3 separate regions of the Homo sapiens genome follow, and all the other regions are linked to region 1. Evidence: fine-mapped expression QTL. A gene starts in region 1. Each other region holds a variant in brackets. All regions are shown on one strand. Distances are from middle to middle. Region 1 holds the start of CASP5 (caspase 5). Region 2 overlaps CASP4 (caspase 4). Region 3 has its middle 47 kb from the start of CARD16.

Evidence for each region. PIP is the estimated chance that this variant, and not a neighbour inherited with it, causes the effect. A credible set is the group of variants that fine-mapping cannot tell apart.
Region 2: its variant is the best candidate, but not a certain one, in a credible set for the expression of CASP5 in whole blood (INTERVAL, PIP 0.87).
Region 3: its variant is the best candidate, but not a certain one, in a credible set for the expression of CASP5 in whole blood (INTERVAL, PIP 0.55).

Annotation. Positions count from the first base shown.
Region 1 is chr11:105,019,218-105,027,217 of GRCh38, forward strand. It overlaps CASP5 (caspase 5), which reads right to left and starts at 3,951. Exons shown (of 10, transcript NM_004347.5): 1 at 3,913-3,951. The coding sequence starts at 3,919. CASP1 (caspase 1) reads right to left here. Exons shown (of 9, transcript NM_001257118.3): 8 at 7,625-7,734; 9 at 6,291-7,139. The coding sequence ends at 7,041. All of the region lies in intron 1 of LOC124902742 (a long non-coding RNA gene), which reads left to right.
Region 2 is chr11:104,933,963-104,944,705 of GRCh38, forward strand. It overlaps CASP4 (caspase 4), which reads right to left. Exons shown (of 9, transcript NM_001225.4): 9 at 8,904-9,011. Among named protein-coding and RNA genes, the nearest start is that of CASP4, 29 kb to the right of the region's middle. The variant A/AT (reference allele first, on the strand shown) is at 7,177.
Region 3 is chr11:105,086,631-105,097,802 of GRCh38, forward strand. It overlaps the pseudogene CARD17P and the pseudogene CASP1P3. Among named protein-coding and RNA genes, the nearest start is that of CARD16, 47 kb to the left of the region's middle. The variant T/G (reference allele first, on the strand shown) is at 4,663.

The DNA.
Region 1 (8,000 bases):
TGACACCCTAACATCACAATTAAAGGAACTAGAAAAGCAAGAGCAAACACATTCAAAAGCTAGCAGAAGGCAAGAAATAACTAAAATCAGAGCAGAACTGAAGGAAATAGAGACACAAAAAACCCTTCAAAAAATTAATGAATCCAGGAGCTGGTTTTTTGAAAGGATCAACAAAATTCATAGACCGCTAGCAAGACTAATAAAGAAAAAAAGAGAGAAGAATCAAATAGACGCAATAAAAAATGATAATGGGGATATCACCACCGATCCCACAGAAATACAAACTACCATCAGAGAATACTACAAACACCTCTACGCAAATAAACTAGAAAATCTAGAAGAAATGGATAAGTTTCTGGACACATACACTCTCCCAAGACTAAACCAGGAAGAAGTTGAATCTCTGAATGGACCAATAACAGGATCTGAAATTGTGGCAATAATCAAAAGCTTACCAACTAAAAAGAGTCCAGGACCAGATGGATTCACAGCCGAATTCTACCAGAGGTACAAGGAGGAACTGGTACCATTCCTTCTGAAACTATTCCAATCAATAGAAAAAGAGGGAATCCTCCCTAACTCATTTTATGAGGCCAGCATCATCCTGATACCAAAGCCGGGCAGAGACACAACCAAAAAAGAGAATTTTAGACCAATATCCTTGATGAACATTGATGCAAAAATCCTCAATAAAATACTGGCAAACCGAATCTAGCAGCACATCAAAAAGCTTATCCACCATGATCAAGGGGGCTTCATCCCTGGGATGCAAGGCTGGTTCAATATACGCAAATCAATAAATATAATCCAGCATATAAACAGAACCAAAGACAAAAACCACGTGATTATCTCAATAGATGCAGAAAAGTTCTTTGACAAAATTCAACAACGCTTCATGCTAAAAACTCTCAATAAATTAGGTATTGATGGGATGTATTTCAAAATAATAAGAGCTATCTATGACAAACCCACAGCCAATATCATACTGAATGGGCAAAAACTGGAAGCATTCCCTTTGAAAACTGGCACAAGACAGGGATGCCCTCTCTCACCACTCCTATTCAACATAGTGTTGGAAGTTCTGGCCAGGGCGATCAGGCAGGAGAAGAAAATAAAGGGTATTCAATTAGGAAAAGTGGAAGTCAAATTGTCCCTGTTTGCAGACGACATGATTGTATATCTAGAAAACCCCATTGTCTCAGCCCAAAATCTCCTTAAGCTGATAAGCAACTTCAGCAAAGTCTCAGGATACAAAATCAATGTACAAAAATCACAAGCATTCTTATACACCAACAACAGACAAACAGAGAGCCAAATCATGAGTGAACTCCCATTCACAATTGCTTCAAAGAGAATAAAATACCTAGGAATCCAACTTACAAGGGATGTGAAGGACCTCTTCAAGGAGAACTACAAACCACTGCTCAAGGAAATAAAAGAGGGTACAAACAAATGGAAGAACATTCCATGCTCATGGGTAGGAAGAATCAATATCGTGAAAAATGGCCATACTGCCCAAGATAATTTACAGATTCAATGCCATCGCCATCAAGCTACCAATGACTTTCTTCACAGAATTGGAAAAAACTACTTTACAGTTCATATGGAACCAAAAAAGAGCCCGCATTGCCACGTCAATCCTGAGCCAAAAGAACAAAGCTGGAGGCATCACACTACCTGACTTCAAACTATACTACAAAGCTACAGTAACCAAAACAGCATGGTACTGGTACCAACACAGAGATATAGATCAATGGAACAGAACAGAGCCCTCAGAAATAATGCCGCATATCTACAACTATCTGATCTTTGACAAACCTGAGACAAACAAGCAATGCGGAAAGGATTCCCTATTTAATAAATGGTGCTGGGAAAACTGGCTAGCCATATGTAGAAAGCTGAAACTGGATCCCTTCCTTACACCTTATACAAAAATTAATTCAAGATGGATTAAAGACTTAAAAGTTAGACCTAAAACCATAAAAACCCTAGAAGAAAACCTAGACATTACCATTCAGGACATAGGCATGGGCAAGGACTTCATGTCTAAAACACCAAAAGCAATGGCAACAGAAGCCAAAATTGACAAATGGGATCTAATTAAACTAAAGAGCTTCTACACAGCAAAAGAAACTACCGTCAGAGTGAACAGGCAACCTACAAAATGGGAGAAAATTTTCGCAACCTACTCGTCTGACAAAGGGCTAATATCCAGAATCTACAATGAACTCAAACAAATTTACAAGAAAAAAACAAACAACCCCATCAAAAAGTGGGCGAAGGACATGAACAGACACTTCTCAAAAGAAGACATTTATGCAGCCAAAAAACACATGAAAAAGTGCTCACCATCACTGGCCATCAGAGAAATGCAAATCAAAACCACAATGAGATACCATCTCACACGAGTTAGAATGGCAATCATTAAAAAGTCAGGAAACAACAGGTGCTGGAGAGGATGTGGAAAAATAGGAACACTTTTACACTGTTGGTGGGACTGTAAACTAGTTCAACCATTGTGGAAGTCAGTGTGGCGATTCCACAGGGATCTAGAACTAGAAATACCATTTGACCCAGCCATCCCTTTACTGGGTATATACCCAAAGGACTATAAATCATGCTGCTATAAAGACACATGCACACGTATGTTTATTGTGGCATTATTCACAATAGCAAAGACTTGGAACCAACCCAAATGTCCAACAATGATAGACTGGATTAAGAAAATGTGGCACATATACACCATGGAATATTATGCAGCCATAAAAAATGATGAGTTCATGTCCTTTGTAGGGACATGGATGAAATTGGAAATCATCATTCTCAGTAAACTATCACAAGAACAAAAAACCAAACACCGCATATTCTCACTCATAGGTGGGAACTGAACAATGAGAACACATGGACACAGGAAGGGGAACATCACACTCTGGAGCCTGTTGTGGGGTGGGGGGAGGGGGGAGGGATAGCATTGGGAGGTATACCTAATGCTAGATGACGAGTTAGTGGGTGCAGCCCACCAGCATGTCACATGTATACATATGTAACTAACCTGCACATTGTGCACATGTACCCTAAAACTTAAAGTATAATAATAATAAATAAATAAATTAAAGAAAAAAAAAGACTGCAGATTATTCATATATGTTATAAGGTTTAGAAAGCACTGATCTATTCCAGTTTCTTCCTTTTTCCAGTGAGGAGAATGAAACCAAAGACGCAATATGACCTGCTGGAATACGAGCTGCTTAAGTAGCCCAGGACTCCAACTCATAGGCTTTTTTAGCTTCTGTGTATAAGACAGTTGGCCTGAAAGTAGTGTGCAGTATGGACTGAAGGGTTAAGTTTTTGGGAGTGGGAAGACAGTTAAAAGTCTATGATAGCAACCTAAGATATATTACATTATAAGAGTTAGTACCAGGACTACATAGAAAGGTGGAAAAATGCAATCACTTTAAACAGACCAATAAGATAATTCAAGATAAGAGATGACAACACGTTGAGAACACAGAGGCTCTCAGATCTGATTGTGGGGAGAAGGTTCATAGTCTGGAGGATTAATTTGGAATCAAGAGGAAGCAGAGAAGATTTCAGAGTGCATTTAGAAATTTCCGGAGTTTTCTCACACAAATAACTTACTCTGTCTTTCCTTACTCTCTCTTTGATTACCAGAAGCTGAAAGAAAGGAATTAACCTTTTTCTGGCTTGAAAACATCTAGAGAACATACTCTCCTTCAGTGTCTCTACACAGTCTCAGGATTCAAACTACATACCACCAATAAGAGAAAGATTCAGCATGCACACTATTGGTTGATTTCCCTTTTGGTATTTCTGCCTGTCACATAGCAATAAATCAAGATTTTTCTAAGACCTGAGTACCCAGCTGCTAGTCAGAAAAGGGCCCAGACTCACCAGCCATAGCTAACAGCCTCTGTCTCTTTGTACAGCACTGGAAAGTGCCTCAGACTCAGAGATAAAATACACTAGGTACTTCCTTATTGCAGGGAGTGGGGACAAGTGATTACAGATTATGGGAAGTTGCTTCTGGGAACCTATAGTTTCATCATTGGGAAGTGCCCTGTAGTAAGCAAATTGGCTTTCTATTCTTGAACTCTAGATTCTTCCCTGGGGAAAAAAAATGCAAATGACAAAACATTGTTTTGTGGGTTGAAACCTCAGCCTGGTTTTCTTTTTCCTTTTCTCTCTCCATAGCCCCACATCTTCTTTTATTCATCCCTCTCTTCTGATCTGTCAGTTTTTCTACCTCTGCTCGTCTAAAAACACATGTCCTGAATGAGTAAAATCTAACTAGTTTCCTTGCATCTTCCCATAAGAATTAACCAAATATTTTGTATATCTTGGGTTTCTTTATTTTTCATTTCAATTTTTATTTGAGTTTCAGGGGTACATATGCAGGTTTGTTACAAGAGTATATTAGGTGATGCAGAGGTTTGTAGTACAATTTAACCTATTACCTAGGTAGTGAGAATAGCACCCAGTACATAGTTTTTCGGCTCTTGCCTTCTTCCTTCATTCCTCCCTCTGGTATTTCCCTGTGTCTGTTATTCCCGTCTTTATGTCCATGTGTACACAATATTTAGCTAGAACTTACAAGTGAGATTATGTGATATTTGGTTTTCTGTTTCTGCATTAATTTGCTTAGAATAATGGCCTCCAGTTGCATCCATGTTGCTGCAAAGGGCAGGGTTTCATTTTTATGGCTGTGTAACATTCCATAGTAGCAGTGTACCACATTTTTTTAAATCCAATCCACCATTGATGGACACCTGGGTTGATTCTATTATTTTGGCTACAGTGAATAGTGCTGCGACAAACATTTGAAAGCACATGTCTTTTTGATAGAACAGTACATTTTCCTTTGAGGATTCAGTCAGTAATGGGATGCTTGGACAAATGATAGTTCTTTTTTTAGTTATTTGGTAAATCTCCAAACTGCTTTTCAAAAAGATGGATGCATCACATTACTGGACTTCAAGCTATGCTAGAAGTCTACAGTAACCACAACAGCAAGGTATTCGTACAAAAAAAACAGACACAAAGCCCAATGGAACAGAATAGAGAACCCCAAAATAAAGCCACACACCTATAACCAACTGATACTCAACAAAGTCAACAACAACAGCAAAAAGAAACAAGGAAAGGATTGTTTATTCAATAAATGTATTTCTTGTTTAAACTGTGCTGAGGAATCATGATGGAGTCTTCTCCTCCCCATCTCCCTGTCATCTTACGCTTTGATTGGAGACAGTTCTGAAGGAATCCTCTTATCTACTTCCTGGAATGCTGTTCTTCAACTGACTAAAACTGCTTTAACAGTTAATTTTTACTTAGGGTGGCAATTCACTTCTCCTTTTTGATATTCTCTGAGCAAAGACTGATCACAGATGTAGTCTCAGGTTGTAGTAGAGTATGCATGATAACACAGAAGAGATATGCCCAGAGAAACAGTTAATAAAAGGTAAAAAAAAAAAAAAAGAGAGAGAGAGAGAGACTGTAATGTGTTCAACTATGAAGGTGTTTAAGAAGTCAGAAATTAACTCTCATTTAATCTGTTAAATATTAGAAAAAAACATATTTGCAAGTAAGGGGTAGTTCTTCGAATCCTCCCTAAATCTTAACATCCCTGAGTGCATGATTTCACCCCAAACTCGTTTTCTCTGCACCATGCCAGGACTTCACTGTGCACACCATGCATCCTAGAGTTTCTTCAGGGTGTCAGGCACCATCTGCCAAGCGCTTCATTTTGGATGGCTGTCTTATCTTTTCAAGAAGTCTGTGAACTACTGAGGGTTGATTCAAAACTTACTTTGTCTTAAATACTTTTGCAAAGGGTAGAAACATGCAAGTTCATGGATTTGTCAGTAGCAAACTGTGGGATTTGGGAAAAGTTCTTTATCACACTACACTGTCGCTGTCATAACTAGCTGTCTTCCCCCGTCTCTCCTGCTGAGCTCTAAATTATTTGAAGTCAGATACCTGCTGTAACTTATATCACATCCCCAAAGCAGAAAGCCCAGCAAACGATTTTTCTTTTTTTAAAAATGGCACAAAATAAATTTTTGTTCAAGAAAGTAATTAATAACATTGCTATGTTTGTAAGTCTGATTTTCTTTTTTAAATTTTTATATTTTATTTTACTTTAAGTTCTGGGAAAGAAAGGTGCCAATAGCCAGTTTGGGTCTGACAGATTAAGTCAAACACTCTAAATTCCTTAGTCACTCTAAGTTCCAGTCCCTGTTTCTTCAGTGTGGGAGAAAAATGAGGACAAGTTTTCATTTTTCTACCAGATTTATTATTTCAAAAAAGTTTATTATTCAGCAGACATAATTCCAAAAACCTTTACAGAAGGATCTCTTCACTTCCTATGAGAAAAAGAAATAATTAAAAAAAAAAACATAGGAAAGAATTTTGTTAAAGACATGCAAGTTATAAAGTTATACCACCAATGGGAACATACACAATTTTAAAAGGAAAGACCACATGCTATGTTTAAATATACCCTGCTGAGGTGAAGGAGAGAAACATCCAAAAGTGAGGGTTTGTAGTCTTACGGCCACTTCTAGGCCAATATCAGATGAATCTCAAAAGGGGTCTAAATGAAAAACTTTGGGAGAAGAGCAACGTGCTCTGCACTGACCAGAAGAAAGGCATTACTTCAGTATTTTCTGTATATGGCTTGATTATCCCTTATCCAAAATGCATGCTACCAGAAGTATTTCAAATTTCAGATATTTTTGTATATTGGAATTCAGCTGTATACTTACTGGTTTAGCATCCCTAATCCAAAAACCTATAATTTGAAATGTTTCAATAAACATTTCCTTTGAATATCATGTGGGCGCTCACACAGTGTTGGATTTTAGAGCATTTCAAAATTCAAATTTTTGGATTAAGGATTCTCAGCCTGTAAACCTAGAGTTCTTGACTCAAATGGACTTTCAGTACCCTTTCCTCAACCTTCCCACACTCCCGACCATACACATGTACCTGCCCACAGACATTCATACAGTTTCCTTATTTTAATGTCCTGGGAAGAGGTAGAAACATCTTGTCAAAGTCACTCTTTCAGTGGTGGGCATCTGCGCTCTACCATCTGGCTGCTCAAATGAAAATCGAACCTAAAAGAGTAAGGAAAGTCTGTAGCCCTTTTTTTTGCTGAGTTTTTTTTTTCAAGAATTTCTTGAGTTATGCCAAAAAACTACAACAAATATAGCAAAATAAGTGACAAAAACAAAAAGTACTTCCATCTGCAACAAGTATAACCATATATGTATGTAAGCATTGAATGACCCTCCTCAGGGCATTTTAAATCTGCTGCTGGATCTAATAGCCATGAGAGACACAGGTAAATTAGAGTCCATTCATTTGTCTCTGCAGGGCAGGAGCGGGGTGAAACTAAATGATTGTTTTCTCAAGGCTGTGGGTCTTAATAGATTGGATTAGGCTCCTGGGTTTGTCCACTCTCCAAAGAACTCCAAAACTCTTTTGGAAAGAAGAGCATTATTGGAAGATAAACTTGTCTGGATCTGCTTTCTATGCTTCCAATTGCAATAGCCAAGCATTCAGGGAAGTAGAGTGAAAATAGCATCCACTAGCATCTTACCTTGCGGAAAATTTCCTCCACATCACAGGAACAGGCATATTCTTGCATATGTTCAATGAGTCTTCCAATAAAAACAGAGCCCATTGTGGGATGTCTCCAAGAAACATTATCTATGGATAAAGCACATTTCAAATCTCAAGACTGGCTCTTGCCTGAAGAAAGAGAAGAAACCCTAGTATTTATACTCCAGCTGAGGGATGTTTGAAATCATAAATTTAGTAGCAAATAAGGAAAAGGCGGAATGGGGTAGAGGGGAGTGATTGGGATTTGGAAATGAAATATCTAAATGTGCATTCCCAAAGTGGTATTACTGACTGTGATTTAAGTTAATTATGCATTCTGATATTTAATAGACTCAGCTAGCTATACAGGGGAT
Region 2 (10,743 bases), 84 kb before region 1:
GCTGTCCAGCACGATGGCTCATGCCTGTAATCCCAGCACTTTGAGAGGCTGAGGCAGGTGGATCACTTGAGGTCAGGAGTGCAAGACCAGCCTGGCCAACATGGTGAAACCCCATCTCTACTAAAAATACAAAATTTAGCCGGGTGTGGTGACACATGCCTGTAGACCCAGCTACCCAGGAGGCTGAGGCAGGATAATCACTTGAACCTGGGAGATGGAGGTTGCAGTGAGCCGAGATTGCGCCACTGCATTCCAGCCTGTGTGAGAGAGTAAGACTCCATCTCAAAAATAAATAAATAAATAAATAAATAAATAAATAAATAAATAAATAAGGAATGCCTATACATTGTTGGTGGGAACATAAATTAATTCAGCTAATGTGGAAAGTAGTTTGGAGATTTTTATATCCAAAGAAATATAAATCATTCTATTATAAAGATACATGCAAGCATATGTTCATTGCAGCACTATTCACACTAGCAAAGACATGGAATCAACCCAAATGCCCATCAATAATAGAATGGATAAAGAAAAGGTGGTACATATACACCATGGAATACTTTCAGCCCTAAACAGGAATGAGATCATGTTCTTTGCAGGGACATGGACGTGGGTGGAGCTGGAAGTCATTATCCTCAGCAAACTAATGCAGGAACAACCAACCAAAAACGGTATGTTCTCACTTGTAAGTGGGATCTGAACAATAAGAACACATGGACAACAGGGAGGGAAACAAGACACATTGGGGCTTGTGAGGGGCTCAGGGGAAGGGATAGCATCAGGAAGAATAGCTAGTGGATGCTGGGCTTAATACCTATGTGATGGGTTGATCTCAGCAGGAAACCACCATTTCCTTTGTAACAAATGTGAACATCCTGCACATGTACCCCAGAACTTAAAATAGCTTGAAAAAAAAAAAAAAAGAACTTAAAACAGAACTGCCAGGGAAGCCAAAAATACTTCCAAACTCACTCTACAAGTACAGCATTACTCTGATACCAAAACCAAACCAAGATACATTAAAAAAAAGAAAGAAAACTATTGGCCAATATGATTGATGAATATTGATGCAAATACTAGCAAACAAAATTCAACAACACATTAAAAAATTGTTCATCATGACCAAGTCAGATTTATCCTAGGGATGCAAAAATGCTTCAACATATGCAAATCAATGTAATGTAACACACTGTATCAACAGAAGAAAGAACGAAAAACATATAATCATTTCAACTGATTCTGAAAAATCAATTGACAAGATTAAAAATGCCGTCATCATGAAAATTCTCAAAAAAAACAGGTAAAGAAGAAACACTTCAGCATAATAAAAACCATATACAACAGACCCACACATAGTATTATACTGAGTCTGGAAAAACTGAAAACCTCTCCTCTAAGATCAGAAACATGGCAAGGATGCCCACTTTCAACACTGTTATTCAACATAGCGTTGGAAGTTCTAGGAAGAGCAATTAGACAAGATAAAGAAATAAAGGGCATCCAGATGGGAGAGGAAAAACTCAAATTATCCTTGTTTGCATATTATGTGTTCTTATATTTGGAAAAACCTGAAGACTCCACCAAAAAACTATAATAGCTGATAGACAAATTCAGTAAGATTGCAGGATACAAAAATCAATCTACAAAAATTGGTAGCATTTCTATCTGCCAATGGTAAACAATATGAAAAAGAAATTTAAAAATTTCATTTACAATAGCTACAAATAAAATTAAATACCTAGGAATTACGTTAACCAAAGAAGTAGAAGACCCTCACAATGAAAACTATAAAACATCAATGCAATAAATTAAAGAGGATGTGAAAAAAATGTAAAAATTCCTTGTTCGTGGGTTGGAAGAATCAATATTTTTAATATGTTCGTACTACCCAAAGCAATCTCCAGATTCAATGCAGTCCTTATCAAGATACCATTGACATTCTTCACAGAATCAAAAAAAAATTCTAAAATGTGTATGAAACCACAAAAGACCTGAAATAGCCAAAGCTATCTTGAGCAAAAATAACAAAACTGTAGGAATCACAATACCTGACTTTAAATTACACTGTAGTTATCAAAATGTCGTAGTACTGGCATAAAAACCGACATGTAAATAAATGGAACAGATTACAAAACTCAGAGATAAATTCATACATCCACAGTGAACTCATTTTTGACAATGGTGCCAAGAATATTCATACGTTGGTGAGAGGACAGTCTCCTCAATAAATGGTGCTGAAAAATGAAACTAGATATCCATGTGAAAAAGAATGAACCTAGACCCCCAACTCTTGCCATATACAAAAATCAAATCAAAATGAATCAGAGACTTAAACACCTCAAACTATGGAACTATAACAAAAAATGGAGAAACTCCCCAGTCCTTTGGACTGGGCAAAGATTTTTTGAGTAACACTACGGAAGCATAGACAACCAAAGCAAAAATGGACAAATGGAATTATATCAAGTTAAATACCTTCTGCACAGCAAAGGAAACAATCAACAATGTAAAGACAAAACCCACAGAATGGGCAAAAAATTTGCAAACTATTCATCTGACAAGGGATTAAAAACCAGAATATATAAGGAGCTAAAACAACTCTATAGGAGAAAATTTTAATAATCTGATTTAAAAATGGGCAAAAGTTCTGAATAGCCATTTCTTAAAAGAAGACATACAAATGGCAAACAGGTACATGAAAAGGCGCACAACATTAGAGAAATGCAAATCAAAACTACAATAAGGTATTATCTCATGCTAGCTAAAATGGCTTTTATCTGATAGGGAATACAAGTGCTAGCGAGGATGTGGAAAAAGGGAACCCTCATACACTGTTGGGGATAATGTAAGTTAGTACAACCACTATAAAGAACAGTTTAGAGGTTCTTTAGAAAACTAAAAATAAGCTGCCATGTGATCTAGCAATTCCACTGCTGGGCATACACTCAAAAGAAAGGAAATCAGTATATCAAAGAGATATCTGCATTCCTATGAATATTGCAGCACTATTCACAATAGCCAAGATTTGGAAGCCAACTAAGTGTTCATGAACAGATAAATGAATAAAGAAAATGTGGTACTTATTCATAGTGGAATACTATTCAGCCATAAAAAAAATGAGATTCAGTCATTGGCAACAACATGGATAGAACTAGAAGTCATTAGGTTAAGTAAAATATGTGAGGCACCGAAGGACTAAGATCACGTGTTCTCACTTATTTGTAGGAACTGAAAATTAAAATAATTGAACTCAGTGAAATATAGAGAAGAAGAATGGTTACCAGAGGCTAGGAAGCATACTGTGGGGTGCAGGGAAATTGGGGAGGGTTATTTCCCCCAAAAACTGTTAAAAAGAAGGATTAAGACCTAGTATTTTCTAGCAAAACAGGGTGACTAAAGTCAATAATAATTTAATTGTACATTTAAAAATAACTAAAAGAGCATAACTGAATTATTTGTAATACAAAAGAGAAATACTTGAGGTATGGATGCCTCACTTTTCACAATGTAATTATTATGTATTGCATGCCTGTATCAACATATCTCATGTAACCCATAAATATGTTATGTGTATACACATAAATATATACCTAAAATTGAAAATTAAAGAAAGAGAGAAAAAACAAACTGGACTATCATTTAATCTAGGAATCCTCTTATGGAACATATATCCAAAAGAAAATAACTCATTCTTTCAAAAAGACACATGCACTCATATATTCATCACAGCACTATTCATAATAGCAAAGACAGTGAATCAATCTAGGTGTCATTAAGGGTGGATTGGATAAGAAAATGTGGTGCATATACGACATGGAATACTACACAGTTATAAAAAGAACGAAATCATATCCTTTGGAGTGGCATGAATGCTTCTGGAGGACATTATCCTAAGCAAATTTACTCAGAAACAGAAAACCAAATACTGTGTATTCTCATTTATAAGTGGGAGCTAAACGCTAGGTACACGTGGATAGAAAGATGGGAAACAATGGACACTGGGTTCTACTAGAGGAAGGAAGGAGATAGAAAGACAAGGGTTGAAAAACTACCTATTGTGTACTATGCTCACGACTTGGATGACAGGACCAATTGTCACCAAAACCCCAGCATCATGCAATATTCTTAGGTCACAAAAGTGCACATGTACCTCTTAATGTAACTTTTCAATTTAAAAATGTGGGAGGTAATGGGAAAAAATTTAGGTTTGGGAGAATTTTGGATTTTGAATTTTTGGATGAGGAATAACCACATTTAGGGCTAGATACCTTGACCAGAATGGAGTTTCAGTACTCCTCTCCAACCTCTTCAACCCCGCAACACACATACACATCGGCCCACAGGCATTCATACAGCCTACTTCTTTTAATGTCCTAGGAAGAGATAAAAACATCTTGTCAATGTCACTCAGTGATGAGCATCTGTGCCCTATAATCTGGAAGCTCAAATGAAAATCAGACCTAAAAAGAGAAAGTCTGTAGACCTTTGCTCTGATGTAGAATCTTTAGCCAGAAAAACTGCGACAAATACAGCGAAATGAATAACAAAAATAAAAAAGTACTTTCACCTGCAACAAGCATAGCAACATGCATATCTAAGCATTGAATGACCCTCCCCGGGGTTTTTAAAATCTGCTCTGGATCTGATAGCCATGAAGGATACAGGTAAATTCGAGTCCATTCATTCCATCTCTTCAGGGCAGGCCAGATCTGCTTTCTATGTTTCCAACTGCAATAGTCTAGCATCCAGGGTAGTCAAGTGGTAGAAGCATCTTTAGCCCACCTTTCAGAAAATATCCTCCTTTTCACTGGATAAGGGATATTCTTGCCAATGTTTGATAAGTGTCAGAGTAAAAAGCCACTTGTGAAATGTTGGCAAGAAACATCTGTGAATAAACCACCTCACAAATCCCAAGACTGGCTCTTGCCTGAAGAAAAAGAAGAAATATTGTTTTTTTTCTAAGTCAGCTAAGGCATGCAATGGAATTCACTTTGTTTTCTATACACTGGATTATATTTCTAGTGAATATATTCAAAATTCAGTGAGTATATTGTTACTGATATTTGACAAGTGTGCTGTATGTGGTGCAGATATTAGAGCAGCGTATTCCCTGAGTTCAAGAAGTCATCAATTTAGTAGAGAGTAAGAGAAAGGTAAAATGGGGCAGAGGAAAGTGACTGGTCCATGGAAAAGACATACCTATATGTGCATTTCAAGAGTGATATTTACTAACTGATTTAAGTTAATCATGAGCTCTGAAATGCAATTGCCTCATCTATAAAGGGGAGGATAATAATTCATACACAAAAGATATCTGAAGCATCACAAGTGTATGGAATAATATAGGATATGTAATACTCAATCTCTACAGTATAATTCTATTAATAGCTTCTCAATTTATCAACTTCAAAAATAATTTTAATTAGAATTAAACAATATTCACCAAAAATATTTACACAAAATTTTAACTAAATACAAAAATGGTACAACAGAACAAAAGTGAAAATCTAGAAAGGGTTGATTACGGAAGAAATACATAATATTGGAGGAAAAAAGTTCTTATGGACAACAGAAATATTGAAGAAGAATTAATTTATTACATAGTTGACACAGAAGTAATGAAGACATATAAATATTATACAAAGGAAGGTGTGAGGGAAAAATAATGGAAATAGCTCTGTATATAACCATGGACACTTTCTTTAATCCAATCTTTTAGTCAATGGTAATGGTAATAAAATATATTGAATAATAAATTAAAATTCTATATAGAACCATGTCTATCACAATTAAAGGAAGGTTTTTAACTAAGTCTTGTTCCAGTTAAATAAAGTAGGTAAGAGATGAGATGGAGACAGGTGTCTCTGCAAATATTTTGTGAAATTAAGGAAGTAGATGGTTATTTTTCTTCAGGAGAGCACCATGATATGATTGGAATTTACACAGTGGAATGTGGAGCTAGGTGTAATATTGGAGTCATAGATAACTAAATTGGAGTTTCTGATAGTCATCTGGAAAGGAGGAGTAAAAAGTAGTGAAAGAAAAGAAAGAGACAGAAACCAGCAAGACTGATGTTGAGAAAACAGTGGACCGACAAAGGGCTGCAAAGACAGAGGCAAAAGTCATGCAGAAGGCTGGGATCAAATGATTTTAAAGAACAATTCCATCTAATATTAAAGTCTACTAATTACACTGAAGCTAGAAATGTTTGGGTCTTTTGTGTGGTATCATCGTTTTTGATCATGGAAAAAGTTAATTCTACCTTAGGATATGGTCAGCACAATGTGGAACCAGTCTGTCTCCTGAGGGAGGGCATCTCATTATAGACAATATGTAATTTAACTATATGAGCAGAGCCAAGACCTTCAGGCCATAGGTGACCAAGAGAATGCAAGTCCCAGGAAACTGCCAAACATGGTGAATGAAAAGATTCAAATGACTTTTATTTAAACCTTGATAAGGAAGTTAACTGAGTTAAGTTACAAAGTAGAAATATCTTTAATGATAGCAGTTGTTTAACACCTTCTTTATTCTGGACTATGCTAAATATTTTGCCTATATTAACTCATTACATCCTTAGAACAATGATATTTATATTCACATCTATTAGTAAGGAACTCAAAGAAAGCCCAGAGAAGCTAAATAAATGAAATTAATTTACCAAGTACTAAGTGGCTGTGTCAGTCTATAAAAGCAAGGATCTTACACCAAAGCTTACATTTACAATTATTCAGATATATTCTGTTTTATGTACTTCATACTTCTAGGTAAAACCCACTTTAAGGTAGGACCCAAATGTGCCTTGCTTGTTTTTCTGCTTCTCTGCCCTCTGCTTCCACTATTCTATAAATACTTGATGTCTGGGCAAATTGGACTGCTGAATGATCCCAACATTGCAGACCTTTTCTATGTGGAGTCAAATTCTAATGTACTCCAGCATAGATCATTTTCCACTGAATTCTCTATTATTGCTCACAGTTTAAGGAAAATATTTTGTACTATAGAGGAATTCAATGATTACTAATTCAGTGTATATATATTATATATACACTCATAGGTTACTCTATTATATATACTCTCATAGATTTAATAATCTATGAGAATTACCCATAGCCCTCCCACCCTGGGTTTATCCTATGTAATTAATACCAAGGAAGATGGGATTCAAACAATGCT[A/AT]TTTTTTTAGAAGCACTGTTACCTAGGAAGGGAGAATACACTGCTTGAGAGTCTTCTGTGTTAAGGTAACTTCCAAATAGTGAACCTAAAGAAAGATGGACATTGAAAAAGCCTCACCTTCTCTGGAGAACTTTACCCCAATGTGTTGGATACTCTTTACTGAATTTTTTTTCCACATGCTTGACTGATTGATAATAAGTCCTGTTAAAGATGTAAGTCACCTGAAACCATGCACATCACTTGGGAAACAAGAGGGTCTTCACATGAATGACTAGACAGTTATTTAACAACTAAGGCAGAATAGATGAGTATCTGTGAGTGACACCTTTGGTCTCTGCTTTGTATGGTGAAAGTGGAATCAAGACATCATCAGATATAGAATTAATAATTTTCTTGACATGTGTATGTCAAGGTGGCTCCTGAGGCATCACAGGTGTGTGAAAGTAAAGTTGCCTAACTCAGTTTGATGAACCATATGGGGGAGAAAAAGACGTATATGCTTGGACCCCTAGTTTTGCTAAGATTTATCACAGTAGAAAAGTGGTTAACTGTCTTATATGAAAAATGAAATATAGCTCATTCACACTGCCAGATCTCTCTCTTGTTCTACATAATATTTGATGGTGGTGAGATTTCCGATTATTTCCTTGATTCATTTTGAAATAATAAGTAATATACTTTACTCTCATTTCTTCTTTCATCAGTTTTGCACAGTAGCTTAATTCTCTTCTGTGTAAGTTGATCAGAGTTTCCCGGGTGCAATTTACTCCATCTTTTCTCACCTCCAGTTATCCCTTTTGTCCCCAATGTCTTATTGTGGTAAAAATACATACCACAAAATTGACCATCTTAACATTTTTAAATGTAGTGTTTGATACTAAATCCATTCATAAAGTCATATAAGTGTCACCCCCATTTACCTTCAGAATTCCTCTTTGTCTGGCAAAGCTCAAATTCTATATCATTAACTAATAACTCCCCATTTCCTCCTCCCCACAGTCCCTGGCCATCACCATTCTACATTCTGTCTCTATGAATTTTATACCCTAGGTACCTCATGTAAGTGAAATCATGCAGTATGTGTTTTTCTATTGCTGCCTTATTTCACATAGCATAATGTCAAGGTTCATCCATATTGTAACAAATGTCAGAACTTCCTTCTCGTTAAAGGCTGAATAAAATTCCATTATGTGTATACACCACATTTTGCTTATCCATTTATCAGTTATCAGATAGTTCCACATTTTAGATATTGTGAACAATGCTGCTATAAATGTGGGTGTATAAATATATCTTTGAGACCCTGCTTTCAATTACTTTAGTTATGTACCCATAGGTGGAGTTTCTGGAGCATATGGTAAGTCTACTTCTAATTTTATGAGGCAATACCATACTGTTTTCCAAGGTGGCTGTACCATTTGAAATTCTCACCAATAGAGCACAGGATTCCAATTATTCTACATCCCTTCAAACCCTTGTTATTTTCTGTTTTTTGGGGCTTTTTTTGATGGGAGTCATTCAAATGGGTATGAGGCAGTATCTCACTATAGTTTTCGGCAACATCTTTCATCCTATTGTTGGGGATAAATCAGTCAGTTTTCTTCATCAGCCAAGTATAGATATTTCATGAGCCATAAAGCTCGAAAATCCAGTTAGCTTCCTCCACTTCATTTCCACTCACCCACCATTTTCATTGAGATTATATTCTCTATTAGAAAAAGACACAGTTCGTTTGTCTTCACTTTTATTGAAATACAAAATGTTAAATATGCAAGCTGTACTAATGAAGGTGCTCCTTGAAGTTGATTAAGGAGGGCTGGGCTGCTTGTGGCTTCCTGCAGGGGAGAGAAAAAACAGAAGGTCAAGATGGTTACCCCTTGCTGCCTTCATCCCATCCCTCATCATGATTCTTCTTGCATCCTCTTCCATGTGCTCTTGCCACTTCCCTTGACTTCCATCTGTGACATCTTAGTCTATTCACCAAAATGTGATCTTTGTAAAACCTAATTTAAAGCATATTACTTCTTTTTTCTAAAGCACTAGAAAGGCTTCCTGTCTCGCTCAGATAATAATTTTTAAAGGTTTACCATGTGATAACATAGAACCACGCGATCTGGCTTCTCACTGCTTCTCCTAATTTGTCTCTGCCATTTTCTCCACTCACGTTCTCTTTTGGTCACACTGTCTCATTGCAGTTCTTTAAACATGTTTAGTGCATTGCTATCCCAGGGCATTTGCACTGGCTGTATTCTGTGCTGGAACACTTTTCCTGCATAAGAACCACATTATTCACTCCCCAACTCTGTCCATTCTTTGTTCTGATTTCATTATTTCAAGAAAAGCTTTTGAGTGAAATATCTATAGGAGTACAGCATCCATCATTCTGTGTTTTCCTTTGTCTTCCTTTATTTTTCCTTTTATCTTTTTTTGCTCTCCGGCCTGTGATATATTTACCACTTTATGTCTTCAGAGTCTGTTTCTACTCACTAGAATATAAGCTTTCAGAGTGTAAGAAATCTATTTACGTTGTTAATTGGCATATTCCAAGCATCTAGAACAAAACCTGGTGCACAGTTAGTGTTGGCAAATATTAGTCAACAAACAATTCAATGTCCAAATGCAGCCCCACTGGATGGATTAGGCACTGAAAGCTGTTATGCTGAAATGATGCAATATTGTGACTGAAGTGTCAGAAACCAAGAGTAAAAATTATGTGGTAAATGTTGGAAGTATTGAGAACAACTTTATACATTTCACTATAAAATATAATTTTAAGTATGTATCTTAGAGGGAGATTGATAATAGTCTTATAGTCTAGTGTTAAATAAAGCTATTATGAGTGAAGAAAGTCATCATTTAGTCCAGACTCAATGTACCCATTCTATAATATTTTGGTCAAAATAATAACAAAAGTTACATGGGAGCTTGAAGGAACTTCTGGACTGTGATTGAAGATTCAAAAGCCAACCCTGAGTGATTGGTGATCTGCATTGTGAGAACAGTCTGAGAACCAGAGCCTGGATCAACACAAACTCTACAGTGTAGGATGTATTCTGTACCATCTGGTAATGGTATCTGGATGTCAGTAATGTGGTATTTGCTGTGACATCCTCACTCAGAGGATCAAAATGCTGCTTTCTCCAGAGTTAGCTCCTTTGTTTACTCTGTTTTGTTTAGGGTTTGATGCAATGTTTGGCTACTTAGTGTCTCTCTCTCTCTCTCTCTCTCTCTGTGTGTGTGTGTGTGTGTGTGTGTGTAAGAAAGGGGAATAAAAGAGAAAGACTATGAGAGATAAATGAATATAAATAGTAATGGAAGCATGAGCATGTTTCTATTTTAATAATTACTATCCTTGGTTTTTCATCATCACATTCTGCTGCGGTTTTCCTTACCTCCTTGATTGATTGATTGATTGCCTGATTAATTGTAGAGTTGGAGGAATCCAAATACATGTAAGTCGGAAAGAAGTAGCAGATAATCACCAGACTATATCAACAAAAACACCAATTTGACCATCCAAGTACTCAGCTGTCATTTGTCATTGAACTTAACCACCAATATCACTCT
Region 3 (11,172 bases), 69 kb after region 1:
TCAAAACAAGACAAACAAGTAGCAAAAAATGTATGAAAAAATTTTCAACATCACTAATCATCAGAGAAAAACGAACCAAAATCACCATAAAGCACCATGTCACACCAATCAGAATGGCTATTAATAAAACACCCATAGTATATCATTGGTCATCATGTATAATAGTTTTTATAGTTGCTGGATTCAGTTTTTTAGAATTTTTGATAATTTTATTTGTGAATTTATTAGATATAATTTTTTAATTTCTGGGATTAATGTGCAGCATGTGCAGGTTTGTGACTTAGGTAAACGTGTACCATGGTGGTTTGCTACACAGACCAATCTATCACCTAGTTATTAAGCCAAGCATGCATTAGATATTTTTCCTAATGCTCTCCCTCCCTTCAAATCCCCCTGTCAGGCCCCAGTGTGTGTTGTTCTCCTCCATGTGTTCATGTGTTCTCATTGTTCAGCTCCCACTTATAAGTGAGGACATGCAGTGTTTGGTTTTCTGTTTCTATGCCAGTTTTCTGAGGATAATTGCTACCAGGTAATTCATGTCTCTGCAAAGGACATGATCTTATCCTTCTTTATGGTTGCATAGTATTAGATGGCATATATGTACCACATTTTCTTTATCCAGTCTATCGCTGATGGGCATTTGGGTTGATTCCAGTCTTTGCTATTGTGAAGTTCTGATATCAAGTTAATATTGGTCTCACAGAATAAGTTGAGAAGTGTTTTCTCCTTTTATTTTTTGTGTGAAAATAAAAGTCAAAAAATAACAGATGCTGGCAACACTGTGAAGAGAAAGCAATGCCTGTACAATATTGGTGGAAACCTGAATTAGTTCAGCACTGTGGGAAGTAGATTGGAGATTTTCATACCCAAAAGAATATAAATCATTCTATTACAAAGATAAATGGAAGCGTATTTTCACTGCAGCACTGTTCACAATAGCAAAGACGTGGAATCAACCTAAATGCCCATCAGTGATAGATAGGAATAAGAAAGGGTGGTATGTATACATCATGGAATACTGTGCAGCTACATCATGGAACATCATGCTGGAATACTATGCAGCCATAAAAAGAAATCAGATCATGTCCTTCCCAAGAACATGGATGGAGGTGGAAGCCATTATCCTCAACAAACTAATGCAGGAACAGAAAAGCAAACACCTCATGTTCTCACTTAAAGTGGGAACTGAACAATGAGAACACATTTACATAGCGAAGAGAACAACACATGCTAGGGCCTATGAGGGGGTCAGGGGAAGGGAGGGCATCAGGAAGAATAGCTGATGGATTCTGGGTTAATACCTAGATGATTGGTTAATCTGTACAGCAAACCACCAAGACAAACATTTACCTATGTAACAAACCTGCACATCCTACACAAGTACACCACAACTTAAAATAATTTGAAGGAAAAAAAACCTTAGACTAACAGAGGAGGAAGAAATACTTCCAAACTCATTACAAGGACAGCATTACTCTGATACCAAAACCAGACAAAGGCACATCAAAAAAAAAAAAAAAGAAAGAAAATTTCGGCCAGTATGATTGATGAATATTGATACAAATATCCATAACAAAACACTAGCAAGCCAAATTCAACAACACATTCAAAAGATCATTCATCATGACCAAGCAAGATTTATCCAAGGGATGCAAGAATTGTTCAACATATGTAAATCAATTAATGTGATACATTGTATCAACAGAAGAAAGGACAAAAAACATAAAATCATTTAAATTGATGTTGAAAAAGCATTTAATAAAATTCAAAATACCTTCATCATGAAAATCCTCAAAAAAAAACAACAGGTACTGAAAGAACATACTTCAACATAATAAAAGTCATATACTACAGATCCACAGCTAGTATTATACTGAGTGGGGAAAACTGAACGCCTCTCCTCTAAGATCAGGATGTCCACTTTCAACACTGTTATCCAACATAGTGTTGCAAGTCCTAGGCAGAGCAATTAGAAAAGATAAAGAAATAAAGGGCATCGAGATTGGAAAGGAAGAAGTCAAATTATCCTTGTTTGCAGACTATGTGACCTTATATCTGAAAAATCCTAAAGACTCCACCAAAAAACTCTTAGACCTGATAAACTAATTCAGAAACATTGCAAGATACAAAAATTAATGTGCAAAATTTAATAGTATTTCTATATGCCAATGGTAAGCAAGCTGAAAAAGAGATCAAGAAAATTATTCCATATACAATAGCTAGAATTAAAATTAAATACCTAGGAATTACATTAACCAAAGAAGTAGAAGACCCTTGCCATGAAAACTATAAAACATTAATGAAAGATATTAAAGAGGATGCAAAAAATTTTTAAAAATTGTTTATGGATTGGAAGAGTCAATATTGTTAACATGTCTCTACTGCCTAAAGCAATCTATAGATTCAATGCAGTCCTTATAAAGATACCATTGGCATTCTTCACAGAAATAATAAAATAAAAAGAAATCCTAAAATGTATATAGAACCACAAAAGATCTAAAACAGCCAAAGGTACTCTGAAGAAAAATAACAAAACTGTAAGAATCACATTACCTGACTTTAAGTTACACTGCAGAACTGTAATTATCAAAATGTCATAGTACTGGTATAAAAACAGACAAATAAATCAATGGAACAGATTACAAAACCCAGAGATAAATCCACACATCTACAGTGAACTCATTTTTGACAATGGTGAGAGGACTGTCTCTTTAATAAATGGTACTGAAAATAAACTGGATATCCACATGCAAAAGAATGAACCTAGACCCCTGACTCCTGCCATATACAAAAATCATACCAAAATGAATCAAAGACTTAAATCAAAGACCTCAAACTATGGAACTCTTACAAAAAATAGAGAAACTCTCCAGTCCTTTGGACTAAGAAAGATTTTTTGAGTAACACTCCAGAAGCATGAGTAACCAAAGCAAAAATGGACAAATGGGATTACATCAAGTTAAAAACCTTCTGCACAGCAAAGGAAACAATCAACAAAGTAAAGAAAAAACTCACAGAATGGGCAAAAAATTGCAAACAATCCATCTGGCAAGGGATTAAAAACCAGAATATATAAGGAGCTCAAACAATTCTGAAGGAGAAAATTTTAATAATCTGATTTAAAAATGGGCAGAAGATCTAAATAGACATTTCTCAAAAGAGTACATACAAACGCCAAACAGGTATATGAAAAAATGCACAACATTATTATTAGTGAAATGCAAATCAAACTTATTTGTGGAAGCTAAAATTTCAAATATTTGAACTCAATGAAACAGAGAGTTGAAGAATTATTTCCAGAGGCTGGGAAGCATAGTGTGGTGTGGGGGAATTTGGGGAATGTTAATGGGTACAGAAACAAAAGAATAATCACATTGGGTACACATAGAATACAAATGGGCTCAATGGACACTGGGGTCAATAAGAGGGAGGACGGAGGTAGAGGGTCAAGGGTTGAGAAACTAACTATTATGTACTATGCTAACAACTTGGATGAGAGGAGCAATTGTCACCAAAACCACAGCATCATGCAATATACCTAGGTCACAAACCTGCACATGTACCCCTTGATGGAAAATAAAAGTTGGAATTATATAAAAAAAAAATATCAATAGGAGACACTCTTACAATTTAATGGAACGAAGGCATTTAAACTAGCAATTATTGCAGACTTTTCAGTGTCTCTTTTTGATTAAAAAAAAGTGGGAGGTAATAGGAAAGAATGTAGATACTGGAGGATTTCAGATTTTGAAATTTTGGATGAAGAGTAACACATTTAGAACTAGACACCTTGACCAGAATGGAGCTTCAGTACTCCTCTCCAACTTCTTCAAATCCCCAACACAAACATACAGACATTTGCCCACGGACATTCATACAACCTACTTCTTTTAATGTCCTAGGAAGAGATAGAAACATCTTGTCAATGTCACTCAGTGATGAGCATCTGTGCCCTACCTCTGGAAGCTCAAATGAAAATTGGACCTAAGAAGAGAAAGTCTGTGGACCTTTTGTGATGTAGAATCTTACACCAGAAAAACTGCAACAAATACAGCAACATAAATGACAAAAACAAAAACTATTGGCACCTGCAACCGTTTAAACTGTGCTGAGGAATCATGACAGTGTCTTCCCCTCCACATCTCCCTGTCATCTTACCCTTTGATTGGAGAGCGCTCTGGAGGAATCCCTTTACTCCCTGGAATGCTTTCCTTCAACTGCTTAAGATTGCCTTAACAATTAATTTTTACTGAGGGTGACAATTTACTTCTGCTTTTTGATATTCTCTGCGCAAAGACTGATCACAGATGTAGTCTTAGGTTGTAGTAGAATATGCACAATAGTACAGAAAAGACGTGCCCAGACAAACAGTTAATAAAAGGCCACACAAAAAAAGGGATTGTAATGTGCTCAACTACGAAGGTTTTTAAAAGGTCAGATATTCACTTTGAATTAATAGGATAAAGATTAGAAAAGGTTCATATTTGCAGGTGAAAGGGTAGTTCTTCCAATCCTCCCTAAATCTTAACATCCCTGAGTGAGTGATTTCAGCCCTAACTCATTTTCTTTGCGCCATGCAGGGACTTCACTGTGCACACCATGCATCCTAGAGTTTCTTCAGGGTGTCATGCACCATCTGCCAAGCGCTTCATTTTTGATGTA[T/G]GTCTTACCTTTTCAAGAAGTCTGTGAACTACTGAAGGTCTACAGTTAATTCAAAATTTACTTTCTCTCTCTTAAATACCTTAACAAAGGGTAGAAATATGCAGGTTCTGTTGATGGATTTTTGGTAGTAAACTGGGATTTGGGAAAAGTCCCTTATCCCACTGCAGTGTCACTGTCATAACTATTCGTCTTCTTTCCATCTCTCCTGCAGAGCTCTAAATTTTTTGAAGTCGGGTACCTGTGGTAATTTGTATCTGCATCCCTAATTTGTAATTTGTGTCTTCAATCCAGCAGCAAATGGTATTTTGAATGAAAAAATGGTGCCAATAGCCAGTTCAGGTCTTACGGATTAAGTCTAACATTCTAAATTCAGTACTCCCTCTGATTTCCAACCACTGTTGCTCCAATGTGGAAGAAAACTGAGGACATGTTTTTACTTTTATATCAGATTTATTAAAATGTTCAGAAGTCTATTATTAAACAGATATAATTCCAAAAACCATTACAGAATGAAGAAACTCTAGGTTTCCTATGGGGAAAAAAAACAAGCATAAAAGAGAATTTTGCTAAAAGAAATGTAAGTTATAAAGTTATACCACCAATGGGAACATATGCAACCTTAAAAGGAAAGGCCACATGCTATTTTAAAATGTTACCCTGCTGAGGTGAAGGGGAGAAACATCTAAGAGTCAGCCTTCATAGACTTATGGCCACTTCTAGGTCAATATCAGCTGACCCTCAGAAAGGGTCTAAAAGAAAAAAAGAAAAACTTTGGAAGAAGAGCAGCATGCTCTGCAGAGACCAGAAGAAAGGCATTACTTCAGTATTTTCTGTATATTATGCCACGGCTTGATTATCCCTTATCCAAAATTCATGCTACCTGAAGTATTTTGAAATTCAGATATTTTTGTATATTGGAATATCTACATTATACTTACTGGTTTAGCATCCTTATTCCAAAAACCTAAAATTTGAAATGCTTCAATAAGCATTTCCTTTGAATATCATGTGGGCGCTCACACAGTTTTGGATTTTAGAGCATTTCAAAATTTAAATTTTTGGATTAAAAATTCTCAATCGGTAGACTTCGAGTCCTTGACTAAAATGGACTTTCAGTACACTTTACTCAACCTTCCCACACTCCTGACCACACACACATACCGGCCCTCAGACATTCATACAGCTTCCTTATTTTAATGTACTGGGAAGAGATAGAAACGTCTTGTCGAAGTAACTCTTTCAGTGCTGGGCATCTGTGCTTTATCATCTGGCTGCTCAAATGAAAGTTGAACCTGAAAGAGAAAAGAAAGTCTGGAGACCTGTTTTTCTGAAAAGATTATTAACTCATGCCAAAAAGGCTAAAACAAATCTAGCAAAGTAAGTGATGAAAACAAAAAGTACTTGTATCTACAACAAGTACAGCCATGTGCTTATCTAAGCATTGAATCACTCTCCTCAGGGCGTTTTAAATCTGTGGTTGGATCTAATGTCCATGAGGGACACAGGGAAATTAGAGTCCATTCATGTGTCTCTGCAGGGCAGGAGGTGGGTGAAACTAAATGATTATTTTATTGAGGCTGTTGGTCTTAACAGATTGGATCTGGCTCCCAGGCTTGTTCACTCTCCAAAGAACTTCAAAACTTTTTTGGAAGGAAGGGTGTTATTGGAAGATAAACATGTCTGGATCTGCTTTCTATGCTTCCAATTGCAATAGCCAAGCATTCGGGGAAGCAGAGTGAAAATAGCATCCACTAGAGCCCTATCTTGTGGAAAATTTCCTCCACATCACAGGAACAGGAATATTCTTGCAGTTGTTCAATGACTCATAACAAAAAGAGCCCTTTGCAGGATGTCTCCAGCAAACATTATCTATTGATAAAGCTTTAAATCTCAAGATTGACTCTTGCCCGAAGAAAGAGAAGAAACTCTAGTATTTCTGCTCCAGCTGAGGCATATTTTGGAGTTCATCTATTTTCCATACACTTCACTGTATTTTTTAGTGAATACATTTGAAGTTCAGTGAGTATATTTTTACTGATACTCTAAATGGTGCTGTATATGGTGCAGGTACTAACGTTGCATAGTCCCAGAGTTACAGTCGTAAATTTAGTAGAGAGTTAGGAAAAGGCAGAATGTGGTAAAGGGAAGGAATTGGGATTTGAAAAAGAAATATCTAAATGTGCATCCCCAAAGTGCTGTTACTGACTGTGATTTAAGTTAATTGTCCATGCTGATATGCAATAGACTCAGCTATACAGGGAATGGTAACAATTTCATACACAGGAGATATCTGAGTCTACACTAGTGTCTGAGCTAACAAAGGGTATGTAATACTCAGTCTATACAGGGTAATTATGTTAATAAATTCTCAATGTATGTACTTCACATAAAATTTTAATGAAAATTTAATAACATTGACTGTAAGATATTTCCACACGAAGAGTTAACCATAAAAATCATAAAACAGAACAAAAGTAGAAATCTAGGAAAAGTCAATAAAAGGATGTTGACATCATAATGGACAATAAGAAGTTCTTATGGAAGAGAAAAATATTAAAGAAAACAATATTTATTACATGGTAGACACGGAAGTAATGAAGACATGTGAAAATTATACAAAGGGAGGCATAAGAGAAAAGCAGTAGCAATAGCTCTGTGTATAATCACAGACTTCTTTAATGACACATTTCAGCCAATTATAATGGTCATAAAGTGTATATTAATAATAAAATTCTATTTAGAACCACAGCTATCTTAGTTGAAGGAAGTAGGTAAGAGATAAGGTGGAAACAGGTGTTTCTGCAAATGTTTTGTGAAATTAAGGAAGTAGATAGTTACTTTTCCTCAGGAGAGCACTATGAAATAGTTGGGATTTGCACAGCAGAATGTGGAGCTAGGCTTAATATGGGAGTTATAAATAACTAAATGGAGTTTCTGACAGTCATATGGAAAGGAGGAGTAAGGAAAATGAAAGAAAAGAAAAACACGGAAATCAGCAGGATTGGTGATGAGAAGCCGGGGGCCTACAAAATGCTATATAGAGGGCCATGAATGTCATGTGGAAGGCTGGGATCAAAGGATATTAAAGAACAGTTCTGTCTAATGTTATAGTCTACTCTATGTACTCAGGCTGGAAATGTATTTTTTTGTGTGTTTATCTTGTCATTGGTTTTGATCATTGAAAAAATATTGAGTTCTGCATCAGGGCATGTTCAAGACAATATAGAACCAAACTTCTTCTGAAAGAAGATATCTCATTGTACAAATTATTTCAGAAAATTTAACTACTTGAGCAGAGGCAGGGCCTTTGAGCCAGAGGTGACCAAGACAATGCGAGTCCTCTCAGGAAACTGCCATACAAGGTGGATAAAAGCATTCAAGTCATTTTTATTTAAACCTTGCTAAGAAAAGTAACTGAATGAAGTTATAAAATAAAAACATTTTAAATAATACCAGTTCTTTAATGTGTACTTCTTTCTGTCATGTGCAATATTTCACATATATTAATTTCTTTAATCCTTAAAAAATGATATTTATATTCATATATATTAGTGAGTAATTCAAGGAAAGTACAGGGAGGAACTAGTGGAGCTAGTTTACAAAGTACTAAATGACTAGATCTGTCAATAATAGCAAGATTCTTACTGCAAAGCATACATTTAGAATAATGCGTATATATTCTGCTTTATATACTTGCTTCTAGGTAAAACCCACTTTAATTTAGGGGCCCAAAGTTCCTCGCTTGCTGTTCTACTTTTCTGAACCCTGCTTCTACTCTTCTCCTATGAATACTTGATGTTAGGCCCAATTGGTCCATTGAATGATCTCAACATGGAGGACCTTTTCTATGTAGAGTCAGACTCTAATGTTCTACAGCAGAGATCGTCTTCCATTTCATTCTCTGTTATCTCTCACAGTTCTAAAATATTTTGCAACAGAGAGGAGTTCATTAATTACTAAATCAGTGAAAAGAAGTGCTTACTTGCTCTTTGAGGATAAAGGGAATCCTGTGTATAACTTGGAACAAAGCTTTAGTTTGTGTTCAAAAATCTTATCTAAAGTTCTGCACAGGTATCTACCCTCTAGTGGGTGGCTGTGAGTTTTTCTATTGATAACACCCACAAAGATGTTCTGTGTACAAGAAACCTGTTACCTAATGTGGAAGAGCAGAAAGCAATAAAATCCTTCTCTATGTGTACTTGATTAATAGCATCATCCTCAAAATCTCCCGGAGTTGGTAAAGATATATTTTCAGAGGCCGGTACTGAATCTTTTACCAACACCACACCATGGTTCTCTGGAAAGACAAAATTTGGTTTGTTACTACTACCAATGGCTGAGAGGACAACGTTCTCCTCTTAGCGTCTGTTCAATCATATTTATCAATATATTTGCTCTATCATTAATTCACATGCACATACACACATACATTCAAGTAACATTCTTTCAACAATTCTTATTTCTTCTAACTCTCAAACTAATTTTAAAAACCACCAAACATCAAAGTCTCAGACTTGAATATAAAACAAATATCTACCAACCAGTCATACAATTCACAGAAGCCACATCTTGAGTGCTGACAGTGTATGTTCTTTGACACTAAAAAACAGACATAAACTGAAAATTCATGATGAATACAGATGAGGACAGTATTTGAATGTCTGGTGTTCTCAAAGACATTAGCCTCACCAACATGGCAGGCCTGGATGATTATCACCTTGGGTTTGTCCTTCAAACTTGGGCAGTTCTTGCTATTCAACGTTTTAAAGATTTCATTGAGTTGTAATACATCTGGGACTTGCTCAGAGTATTTCTTCCCACAAATGCCTTCCCGAATACCATGAGACCAGAGGCCTTGTGCTCTTGGTGCAGAGAAAATACCTCCAACTCTGTAGTCATTTCCTGAAAGAGACCATACTGCTGATTTTGGACTATGTGATTAACCCTCATGGCACCTTGGAAAGCCAATAAATAAGTACTTAAGGATTTCTTAAGTAATTTCATGACAAACAATGGAGGGCCAAAAAACCTTTTAGTCTTAATTTCGAGAAAGGTGAAGGAAGGTGTTGTAGGAAGTCATTCAGAGTTATCTGGTAAAGAGAACGTGGCATTACTGAGAAAAAAAAAAAAAAAACCTTCACATTTAAGTTAAACCAGACTCATGCTGAATGACTCTGATGTTTCAGGGGAATATGTAGCATCCAGCATCCTTCCATGGCAAGTTTATATTTTAGATTATCAACAGATTACAATTCTTGGTCCTACAACCAAGCTTTCTAATATTATTTAGTTACACAAAGGGCATGACCGTTGTCTCTATGGTATAATAGACCTTACCGAAGCAGTGAGATTTCTTTTCTCATCCACCTTGTACCCCAGATTTTGTAGCAGCATCATCATGCCTATGACATCAACCTCAGCTCCCACTCTTTTAGAAAGACTGTCAAACTCTTTGTTAAAGATAATGAGAGCAAGCATGATGTGTGCAGCTTGACTTGCCCATTATTGGATAAATCTGTAGGAAATGCAGTTTGGATGAATAGTCTTATTCTCTGTAATTTAATATTCACCTGGTTAATTTATGACCATTTTCCCTTTCTTAGTCCTATCAAGGTACCAAATCCCTTGGACTACACATTGAAAATGGGGAACGGAATTCAGTGCTACTTCGAGAGTAGGCATAGAAACTGCAAAGGCCCAGATGGCAGGTTAGCTACTGACTTCATTTTTCTTGATACGTAGGATTTTGAAAAATGCACAAGCTTTGAAGCCAGAATGCCTGAATTCTAAAACTGATTGCTCTAATTTTTTATTGTTTTTCTTTGGGCAGAATATTTAACAACCCCATGTCTCAGCTTCTAGATCTCTAAAATGGATTATTTTTAAGGTTAAAAATTATGTATTATCATGTACAAAATGCTTAGAACAGTGCCCACTCTTAGTGAACATTCAATAGCTGCCATTGTTGATGTTATTTATCCAGGAATTGGGTGCAATTAGGAACTGTTTCTATAAACCTGGGATCCTAGGATGCAGGATTTTTTTTTTTTTTTTAGGTAAAGGAAGCAGAAGTAAGATTCTCCGTTGAGAACAGCTCTAAGAAAAAGCCACTGCATTTCAGAATTGCCTCAAATGTATCTTTCACCCCACTCTAACCTTGTGTTCTGAGCATGGCACCTCTGTCAACTTTTCTTTCCATATCCTTTTAGCTTCGTCTAGGGAGCAAAGCTTGATGCTTCCTCCTGAGCCTGAGGATGTAGGCATAGCAGGGCTGTCCCACACTGCCACAGCCTGAGGAGTCGCAAGAGTCAAAGAATATCATGAACATTGGCATCCCTCTTTGTTCCGCTTTGTGTTTCTTACAGCCTCACCTAAGGATGAAGCCACAAAAGTGGAAATGCATTCTTAGGAAGACAATCCTGATCTTTCACCGCTGAATAATTTCACTGCTAATGGAGTACATTTCCAGCCAGAGATTTCCAGGTGTGCAATACAGGGATCTCCTTTCAT